3 linked regions of the Homo sapiens genome follow. The protein of the gene in region 1 purifies or fractionates together with the protein of each later gene. This does not show direct contact. Each region holds a gene or a part of one and is shown in the gene's direction. Other genes may lie near its edges. The genes, in order: SRMS, CFAP54 and P4HA2.

Evidence for each region.
Region 2: the proteins of SRMS (region 1) and CFAP54 purify together in Homo sapiens (co-immunoprecipitation; one large-scale study listed by IntAct). This does not show direct contact.
Region 3: the proteins of SRMS (region 1) and P4HA2 purify together in Homo sapiens (affinity purification with mass spectrometry; one large-scale study listed by BioGRID and IntAct). This does not show direct contact.

The regions. Positions count from the first base shown.
Region 1 is NC_000020.11:63,544,947-63,549,175, reverse strand, and holds the start of SRMS (tyrosine-protein kinase Srms), read left to right. Parts: upstream 1-1,426; 5' UTR 1,427-1,712; coding exon 1,713-2,068; intron 2,069-4,229. UniProt on the Homo sapiens protein: Non-receptor tyrosine-protein kinase which phosphorylates DOK1 on tyrosine residues. Also phosphorylates KHDRBS1/SAM68 and VIM on tyrosine residues. Phosphorylation of KHDRBS1 is EGF-dependent. Phosphorylates OTUB1, promoting deubiquitination of RPTOR.
Region 2 is NC_000012.12:96,870,563-96,873,451, forward strand, and holds part of CFAP54 (cilia- and flagella-associated protein 54), read left to right. Parts: intron 1-2,889. UniProt on the Homo sapiens protein: Required for assembly and function of cilia and flagella.
Region 3 is NC_000005.10:132,203,830-132,207,479, reverse strand, and holds part of P4HA2 (prolyl 4-hydroxylase subunit alpha-2 isoform 2 precursor), read left to right. Parts: intron 1-3,327; coding exon 3,328-3,398; intron 3,399-3,632; coding exon 3,633-3,650. UniProt on the Homo sapiens protein: Catalyzes the post-translational formation of 4-hydroxyproline in -Xaa-Pro-Gly- sequences in collagens and other proteins.

The DNA.
Region 1 (4,229 bases):
GGGCGGCGGGGGGAAGCGCGGGAGGAGAAGGCGCTGGGGCCCCTCGAAGGCCACCCCCAATGTAGTATTTACAATTCTCCACATTTCTCAACACCCCCCACCACCCCCAGCAGGGCACCTCTCTGGTGCAGAGCCTGCCCTGAGCCTGGCGATGTCCAGTCTCCCAGGGCCCCTGCTGGCTCCAGGCTATCAGCCCGGACACAGCTTGGCTGCTGGGGTGCCCTGAGAGCCAGGCCACGGGTGTCACTGCCACCCCACAATGCACACACCAGTCCCCAGACGTGAGGTTTCTGAGAAGCCCATCTGTGACTCCAGGGCAGGCAGGTGCGAGGGGCTTGTCATTGGCTGGACACTGGTCACGCCTATTGGAGGGATGCATTCAGCCACACGCATGAAGTGGGGGCATGGATGCGTGTGAGATGTGGGAAAGGGGCGTGAGGCTCCCTGAAGGCCACCCAGGTGCGGAAGGGGCTGCTGGGGGAGGCCGGCAGGAGGAGTGAGAGACTGCAGATGGCCTCACCCCACCCCCGTGCCTCAGGACCCAGAGGGGAGGTGGGAGGAGTGAGAGACTGCAGATGGCCCCCACCCCACCCCACTCAGGACCCGGAGGGGATGTGGGAGGAGAGAGAGACTGCAGATGGCCACCACCCCATCCTCCTGCCTCAGGACCCTGTACCGTGCTGCTGGGTTTTGCTGGGATTTGCTCCCCCAGTCCTGCCCCGATCTGGGGACCTACCTGAGCGGGCAGAGTTTGCTTCAGCATGCGGGGGCTTGGCGCTGTCCAGGGAGAGGGTGGGAGGTCCCCAGCCAGGGACTCACCCGCCGCCCCTTCTCCGTGTGCTCATCCCCCTGAACTGGGGCCAGGCGTCCGCAGCCTCCACTTCCCCGCAGTGGCCTTTGGGTATGGCCTGGGCATTGACTGACTCAGAAGCCGGTCATCGGGCAGCATGGGGCATCTGGGTGCCTGGCCTGCGGCCGAGCTCCCTGCAATCAGCATCTCGTTTTACTGCATGAAAGCCGGGGTGCTGAGAGCCCCCTCACTCGCCTGTCCTCAGAATTTACTGCAGAGGCCGGAGGCTCGGCACCTGGTGCAGGGTTAATGATGTTAAAATATCTGGCCAACACTTAAATAAGCAGGCAATTTTTCACCTGAGTGCAGCTCAGGCTTGGCAACCACTGCAGGTGCTGAACAGCAGCGCTTCTCCGTGGAACCCCCACTTCTCCGTGGGCACGGGCGGCTGTTGGACTGTGGTGCCCTTGGGCATGGGCCAGGCCTGACTGGGCAGAGCCATTCCGCCTGCCTGGGCCTTGCAGAGGGCGGGAGAGAGGCTGGCCCTGCCCACCCCGCCCTCCTCGGGCCCCTCCTGGAGCCCGCCCCCGCCCCAGCCCAAGCTGCCCTCTGCCGTCGGGTTGGGGAGGGGACGGTGCACTCCAGACGCCAAGGAGGTCGAGGACAGGAGGTGCTGTCGGTGTGCCTGAGGCAGGGGGTCCGCCCTGCGCCCCACCCAGCCCCAACGCCAGCCCGGACGCCGGTGGGAACCGTGTGCCTCCTGGATCCAGGGGACCTCTGAGTGACCGCAGGGCCGGGGTCCCCTGTCACCCCACGGCCAGGGCAGGGAGCGCTGGACACCGGGTCCCACCGGCCCTGCCAGTTCCTCTTCCGGGCTCGCGGGCTCCCATGGCCCTCGGGCCCAGCGTGGTGACCCCGGGGGATGGAGCCGTTCCTCAGGAGGCGGCTGGCCTTCCTGTCCTTCTTCTGGGACAAGATCTGGCCGGCGGGCGGCGAGCCGGACCATGGCACCCCCGGGTCCCTGGACCCCAACACTGACCCAGTGCCCACGCTCCCCGCCGAGCCTTGCAGCCCCTTCCCTCAGCTCTTCCTTGCGCTCTATGACTTCACGGCGCGGTGTGGCGGGGAGCTGAGTGTCCGCCGCGGGGACAGGCTCTGTGCCCTCGAAGAGGGGGGCGGCTACATCTTCGCACGCAGGCTTTCGGGCCAGCCCAGCGCCGGGCTCGTGCCCATCACCCACGTGGCCAAGGCTTCTCCTGAGACGCTCTCAGACCAACCGTGAGTACCTCGGCCTCGGAGTCAGAGCCTGCCTCGCCCCCAGCTGGGGAGTCCAGAACAACGGCAGGATTTTGAGTTGGAAATCGCATGTCCGTGGCTATCTGTTCATTCATTCGTTCATCCACGCATTCATTCAGGGACAGCTGATGGGCCCCGGGCCGGCAGGTGTGGTAGGAAAACAGCAGTGTCCGCTGTGGGCTGCCGAGAGGGAGAGGAGGCTCCGGCAGGCGTGGTCAGGTCCTGTGGGGGGGAGCATCAGCTGCACCAGCTGGACACCCAGCAGGCGGTTCCTCCAGGACCCTGCCTGGCTGGCCAGGCCCTCCCGCCCTCACACAGGGAGTCCAGTGTTCATGGATCGGTCACTGCTTGGAGGGCAGGGGCTGGGGGCTGGGAGGCACCAGATGACAGGAGCTCCAGGAGCTCTGGGTGACGGCAGGTGAGCAGGGGCTGGGGGCTGGGGGCTGAGACAGGGGCCCATGCTCCAGGAACTCTGGGTGAGGGCAGGTGAGCAGGGGCTGGGGGCTGAGACGGGCCCACGCTCCAGGAGCTCTGGGTGAAGGCAGGTGAGCAGGGGCTGGGACTGGGGGCTGAGACAGGGGCCCACGCTCCAGGAGCTCTGGGTGAGGGCAGGTGAGCAGGGGTTGCAGAGGCGCCTAGTCCAGATGCCCAGTGCGGCTGCTCTGAGCGGCTGCCTTGGTCTGGCATCCAGCTGGGCAAGGCCTGAGCCCTGGAGACCTTCGGGGTCAGCCTTGCTCAGGGCCACTTCCAGCCTCCTGGGGGCCCTTTGGCACTCACACATCGTCCTGGGGGTTGCATGGGCGGGTGAAGCCGGAGTCACAGGAAGGGGCCTTCTGAGGGGCCCCAGGCCCTCACCCCACACCTGCCCCGCTTGTCCTGAGCAGTGGTTGGGGGGCAAGCAGCCTTTGTGATGGGAAGGGGCTCACAGTCACCCCAGGTGTGGAGGACAGACCCCTTCAGCAGTTCCTGGAGGGCAGGGCTCGTGGTGGAGCAGGGCGGTCCATAGGCAAAGCTAATGACTATTTGCCTAGGCTGGAGATTAAAAGACTAACCACACTCAGGTGTCATTAGCTCCAGACACCTGGCCCCACGCCCCAGGGAGAGACCTCAGACACATCCTCTGCATCTCAGGATCCCACAGGGGCTCACCTCTGACCCCCAAGCCCTGATGTGGGCTTCAGAGGAGGCTGGCGATGTTTTGGGGAAACACCTGTGTCTCATCCCCACACCCCACGGTGCTGGGAGGGACCTGAGTCCCTTTACACGTGAGAGGGTTGCGTCTCCCTGCCAGCAGACCCCAGAAGGCAGGGGCCCTGGCTGCAGGAGGAGCTCCATGGACAGAGCGTCCATGGAGTCAGTGCCTCAGGCCGCTGCCTCTCTGTCCCTGGTCCCACACCTCTTCCTGTCTCCATCTTCATTCCCTTCAACTTAAGCCCAGCCCCACGGCCCTGGTCATGTCAGTTTCTATTCCTGCTGCCCCCATTGCCCCCTAGGTCACCGGGGCAGGGGTGCCAGACTGTGTCCTCCGTCTTGCCCAGTCCCAGTCTGCCAGGATGGCATGGCCGTGCCCCAGCCCCGAATCTTGTGTTGACTCTGAGGCCCACCTCGGGTCCTCTCCTAGTCCCGCTTCCCAGGTGGTTTCAGCCCCACCCTGACACCGGCTCACTCTGCTTCTTCCTCCTGGTGCTTACGGGGTGTGCCCTGGGGCAGGGGAGTGGCAGGCATCCCTCTCCGGGTCCCAGGAAGCTCCAGGAAGTGGGAGGCTCCAGGGTGGGAAGCTGAGTCAGGTGTGGAGTCCCCGCCTTGGACTTCAGCAGCAGAGTTATGCAGACGGGGTGGGGCTGGGAGCATTTCTGTCTTCCTTCCAAGGATGCCTCCGGCTCCCAGGAATGAGTAGATGTGACCTGGTGGGCGGCCCACCTGGACAGGGGAGACCCAGCCGGCCCCTCTCCCGACACCCGGTGTGGGCTCCTCGTGTGTGGGCATCTGAGGAGTGGGCACCTGGGAGCTCCCTGCCACCCTGCCACCGTGTTCAGAGAGGTCTCACCTGCACCTGGCTTTTCCGAGGGGGTGTCTGTGCGAACAGACGCCAGTGGGCTTAGGGCCGTCCTGTACTGGGCACAACTCTCCAGCATGGGATGCA
Region 2 (2,889 bases), on another chromosome or scaffold:
GGATGCTCAATAACAGGTAGCTCTTACCATTATTACATTCTTATATTATTACATACATCTTCGGGGGAAGTTCGTTTCTGTCTAGAAGGATCAGAGGTTATTTATTGTTTTGTTTTGGTTTGGTTTGGTTTTTTTATGGTAATGATAGGAGTTCATTTCTGGTGATAGCAGAGTGGCTTTTATTGAACTACCATTTGCCAATAACAATTTTGAACTCTGGATCAAAAAACAGTGCAAACAATCATAAAATCAGAATTAAAATGATGTTTGAAGTCCCTGGGGAATGACTAAAAATAGGCAGAAACCAAAGGAATGGTAATCCTTGAAATATGGAAACAAACTAGGTGAGGTCCACATTTAAACAGCCTATTCTCTGAGGACACACCTCATCTTGCAAAATACGTAAGGGACAGAGTGCAATCAGGAAGAGGCTGAATGACTGAACTGAGGATTCAGAAGTCAGGGTGTGGGTCTGCCAGAGTAGTTAGAAATTAAGGAGGGAATGTTTCAACAAGGAGGGAGACAGTGTGGGGAGCCCTAAAATCTGTGCACAAATTCTCCTAAAACTGTTGGCTGACTACCAACAACACATGGACATGATGAGACTCCAGAGAATCCAATGGAAAGTTATAGCTGAAAGGCTCAAAGAACAAAGCCTCAGAGATTTCAACAGCTGCATGGTACTGGAGAGACAAATTTTGTAATTCAAGTCCAGTCAAGGAAAAGGGACTTAATAAATTATTTGTGCTTTTCATTAAAACCCTAGGAGGGAAATACCTTAAGAATAAGGATTTTAGAACCAAGGACTACAAATGAGGCCTAACAGCAAAGCAAAAATAGGCCCACCCATCAAACCTCCATAAGATAAAAGTGGTTGTCAGTAATTTAACTGTATGCTAGAACAAAACTCAACGACGTTGCCCACAATGTACAGTAAATAATTAAAAATTACTTTATATACAAAGAAGCAGGAAAATATCATCCACAATCTAGGAAAAAAACAGTCAACACATTTCCAGAAGTTCCAGGTATTAGAATTAGCAGATGGAGACTTTAAAATAACTATAATATACATGTAAAATAATCTATTGAAAAAGATTGCTATAATGGATAAAGAGATGGGGGATATCAGGATACATATGGAAATGGAAAAAGAACCAAATGGAAATCCTTAAACTGGAAAAATAGATCTGAAATTTAAAAATTCATTGAATGGACTTAGCAAATTAGGTGCTACAGAATTTTTTTTAAAAAATAGTACACTTCTGGACAGATCAGTAGAAATTATCTAAGCACTGAGAAAAAAATGATTTTCAAAAATTTCAGAGCTATGATGGCCTATTCATGTTTCGACATGTGTGAAACTGAAGTCTAAGATAGGAAGGGAAGTTAGGAAAGAGCCCCAGATAGGAAGAAATTGAAATCCTAGATAGGAAGGAAAGAGTCCTTTGAAAAAAGGATGGCAAAATTTTTTCAGATTTGATTTAAAATATTAACCACCTTTGGATTTAGGAAGTTCAATGAACTCCAAGCATGATAAATAAAAAGAAAACCACACCCAAGCAAATCATAGTCACAGTTCTGAAAATCAAAAATAGGAAAAACATATTAAAATCAACCAGAAGAAAAAACACAAAGTCCTAAGGAAGAGGGCAATAAGAGTAAAGGCTGACTTCTCATCAGAAACATTGGAGACCAAGTGATAATGGGTTGCCTTCTTAAAAGTGCTGAAAGAAAAAAAAAGTCAACCTATTAATCTAGATGACTTACACTAGACTTACATTTAACCATATTATTAACTATATTAAGTGTAAATGGACCAAAACTTTCATTTGAAAACAGAGATTGTTCTATTTTAAATAAAAGACACCAACAGATTGAAAATAGAAGGATGGAGAAGTGGAGACCATGTAAACACTGAACATAAGAAAGCTGGTGTCGCTATATTGTCATTAAGGTATATTTCAAAAATGGATACTGCCAGAGGTGAAATAAAACATTTTATAATGATGAAAGCATCATTTCATTAAGATGACATAGTTCTAAATGTGTTTCCATTTAATGATGAGACATTTTATTTTTTAACATCTAGTACAGTAATTCCCTTTAAGGACAGAGGTGCCTTGATTAGAAAGGTATTTTGATAAGTCTGTTGGAGTAGGTGGTCTCTATGAGCCATTGATGTGGGGTAGCTTTGATGCTTCAGAGGAGCAGGTAGAATTACTTGAGACAGGAGATAGGGTCACAAATCTTCCCAGTTTTTCCAGAACTGAGATTGACTTTCAGTGCAAAATCTGGGACTATCCCCAAACTAAGACAGCTCCAGGCAAACTGGAATGGCTGCCTATCCTACAAAGAGAGGAATTTATTTACTTTGAAAATTGGAGAAATAAAAGAGAAAGAGAAGAAAAGAATAGATAGCCATCAGATGACAGAAGGTTGTACAGTGGATTAAGTGACCCATTACAGTGATCCCTCAAACATTAAGTAAAATTACTAAACTCACAAAAATGATGGTTGTAAAATGTGTTTGAATGTTTGAGAAGCTAGTGATGAGGTAGAATGGTTGAAAAGTTGCATGCATCATAAACATGGTATTTCTGGAACAAGGATCATGAGAACATAAGTTTTGGGGAATTTGTAGGAATCATGGGAATAGTTTTAGACTTTCATAGGTTATGAAATGGGAGGTTTGAGTCAAGCTTGGGGATAATAAGGGAAAAAGAGCTGAGATTATATCTGAATCTTACAACTGTATTAGTTAAGAATCATTTGGTTTTGGATAATAGAAAATCTACCTTTAACTGGGTCATACACTAAAGGAAATTTATTTGTTCATGTAACTGAAGATTCCGGAGGTAAGGTGAGCTTCTGGCTCGACTCAATCCA
Region 3 (3,650 bases), on another chromosome or scaffold:
GAAGGTCACGCTGGGAACAGGGCAGGTCTACACTGGTGTGTCAGTTCACCTGGTTGGGAGACTGGTGCGTGGGTGAGTTTTTTGGAAATGTTCCATAGGATGCTATGAAGCTGGGTCCTGTGGAGCTCCTGATTAGGACTGTAAATGAGGTGAATGACTTAGAGGAGAATGTATATCTTTATAATATTGGGTCTTCTCATCCAAGGGCATGACAGGTCTCTCCATATCTTTTTAAGTTTTCTTCATATAAGCCTTGAACATTTCTTAAGTTTATTCCTTGGTAGTTTCTTTGTTACTGTTAATTTACTTTATTTCTTCATTATTATTTTTAACTGGTTACATTATTTTATTAGTTTACTATTATATGCCAAACTATTGATTTTACAAATACATTTCATAGTAAGAGCTAATGTTTACTGAATTCTTAACTGTGGCAGGAACTTCTAAGTGCTTAACATATATATTAAGTGTTATGTCACAGTTATGAACAGCTGCTCATAATGATGTCACTGTCTCTGTTTTACCTATGAAAAAGCAAACTCATACAGATTGCAGCTAGTGGTTGAATTTACTTATTTCTTTTTTGGTTTTTAGCTGATTTCTCTTTGGTTGCCTGGATAGCATTAACACCTGGAAATAAGGAAAATTTTATTTTCTCCTGATACTTGTAGTTCCTTTGTTTTTATAACCTTATTGAATTGCCCAGAACTTCTAGAGCATAATTACGTAGAATAGGCATCCTTGTCTCATTCCTGAATTTCCTGGAAATTCCTATGGTATTTTACTGCTAAGAATGCAGTTGGCTGTTGGTTTTGTATATATGCCATGTTTTAAAATTATTCTTCTGTTTCTAGTTCATAAAAGATTTGTTCCCCATTTGACATCTTTCAAAGAGACCTATTTGCTGCCATATCCCATCACTGATGATTGGGAGGGAGGATTTAGCTCGATTCTCTATTGCTCTGCTCCTAATAGAATTGTAGGGGCCGAGGTGACCAGGAGGCCCGACACTCATGGAGAGACCTGAAATAGGTTCCTATCCTGGCCCCTGGACCTCATCTTGGAACAGCTTTGGCTTGAGGTACTAGGACATCTAGGGCTTTGAGTCAGTGGTTGGCATCATCGATGTGGCTGAGGAAGGGGGCTAGCCAGATATATGGAGAATGGGGACTAGGACTCCCCTTTCTACTCAGCTCCAGAGTCCTCCAGGAAAGAAAACTACTTTGTTGGTTGTGCCAGGATTTCCTGAGAGATTTCTTACCCGTTCTTCAGTTCCAGACACTGAGAACATTTCTCTGTGCATGTGTGCATATGTGTACACATGTGTGTGGCTGGCCAGAGGGTAGTGTTAGGAAAAGATATATTTGAATAGAAGCCATGCAAAGAGCCAAACAAGGTTGGCAAACATGTTTGGCTCTTAACATGGCTTCTATTCAAAGATAAGCTGACCCCTCCTTTCCGGAGACTGTGAGGGACAGATGCTATTCTGGCTTTGAAGTAGAGCCAATGAGCTTAACTTGGCCTGTGGGGAATGCCTGGCAGCTGTCTGTGGGGTCTCTGGCCTGCTTTCAAAATAGCCCTGTGCTTCCCCTGGGGCAGAGCACAGCTGCTCAGAGCCTCTTTGTGGGTGTCAGGCCAATGCTGAGGCACAGATGTTTGGATGGGGTCTGGCTGTGGCTGCAGTTTTCAGGGAGGGACTGACATGAGCTGAAGCTCAGGAAGGGCCATGAGTAGGAGCTTGGGAGCCGTCTGTCCTGCTTGTGCTGGCCATCTTACCAGATCATGCCATAGCAGCACAGTGTCCAAGTTGGTCCATCTCACCCCCTTACTAGCCTTCTGGTCCATCTACTCCTCTCCATCCCTTCTGCCACCACCTGGCCCGGGCCACCATCATCTCTTGCCCTGACCTCTGTCGTGGCCTCACTAGCCTCCCAGTCCCCACTCTGGCCCCTCATTAGTCAACTCTCCATGAGGTATTCACAGTGATCCATTTTACATTCACATTTTGAGTGTCCCTCCCCTGCATAAAGCCTTCCCCATTTCTCGTTGGCCACAAGGTTGCATCTAGTTCCTAGCCCCTGCTTGTCTCTTCAGCCTGTTCTCTCTTACTACTTCCCATAACCTTTAATCCACACCTACTGCAACACCCATTTTCATTCCCAGGCCTCTGGATTGCTGCTCTTTCCCTGTTCCTGTAATGTTCCTCTACTTGGATAACTCATGTTAACCCTTCAGGCCTCAGCTAGGTGGTCTCCTCCCCTAGGAAGCTATTCTTGACACTATACCCTGAGCTTCCACAGGATGGTAAGTTCACCCATGCTGTGCTGCAGTTACCTGACTGGTTTTCTGCTTTCCCCACTTGACTGAGTTGTAAGAGTGCAGGGGCCATGTCTCAGTTACCTAGCATAGTGCCAGGCACAAAGTAGGCACTCATCAATATTTATTGAAATCAAGGGGAAGTGTGTTGGGGTGGGAGTACCTGGGCCTATGGCCCCACCCATGTGAGGTCATGAGGACAGTCCACAGCTGAAGCACATGGACCTTTGCCATGTTGGCTGGCTCTGGGCGGCGAGTCCCCCTTGGGGTTTCACTAAGCCTAACTGTGGAGGCTGGGGGAGATGAAGTAGATGCAGGGAGTGCATGTGTAGTGTGTACCTGTATGAGTGGGTGGCTTCCAGGCAGTGGTTCACTTATTTTAACTTACAGAATCTTTTCCTGGTTTTATCATCTGACTTGTAAGGATCCCAAGGGAGCGAAAACTGTGCCATCTGTCTTTGCTTCTTGAGGCTGTGGGAACCCAGTGTGAGGTGGTGCAGCAGGAGAGTGTTTGGATGGGTTTCTTGGCAGAGGAGCCCACTGAGGTTCGGAAGGATGGTGGAACTTGACTCAATTGAGAGAAGTACATAAGGCGGAGGCTCAGGCATGGTGGCACAGTCTGAAAATGGTGGGAGTAGCTAAGCTCAGGCAGGCTGTGCTCAGGCAGGGGTGGTATGTGGGCCTGGCAAGGAAAGGGGCTAGTCAGGCAGATGCATGGGTAGACAAGGCAGGCATAATTCTGCAGGCAAAGCGGACCTGGGGAGGAGAAGGGATGAGCAGTGACCGAGCAGGGCAATAGCCAGGAACTGATTGCGGATTGGGAATGTGGAGGCCTCAGACTCTTGCCCTCAACTGGCCTGCAGGATCTTGGGGCCTTGGCTAGAGCCATTGGCTGCAAAGCTTCCTCCACTAGCATGGCAGTAAATCTGGTCCCAGTGCTCTCTGGGAAAATATTCAAGGCAAAACAAACAAACAAACAAATCAAGTCTTCCCTCTCCTCCTTCCTTCTAGCTTGCACGAGCCACCGTTCGTGATCCCAAGACAGGAGTCCTCACTGTCGCCAGCTACCGGGTTTCCAAAAGGTAAGCAAAGAGCAGGGGTTCGTAGCTGCTCAAGCCCCAACTTCAGGACTTCTCAGTGCCTACCCTAGGGATGGGTGGCTTGCCTTTTCCTGCCTGCTGGCACCTCCTCACCCCCTTGCAGCAGGCATCCTGTACTGCCTGTTCATGCTGGCCCTGACTCTGGGGACAGAGTTCAGGACCTCATGGAAGCCTGCCCTTCCGTCTTCTTTTCTCTGCCCTTTTCTTTTTGCCCAGCTCCTGGCTAGAGGAAGA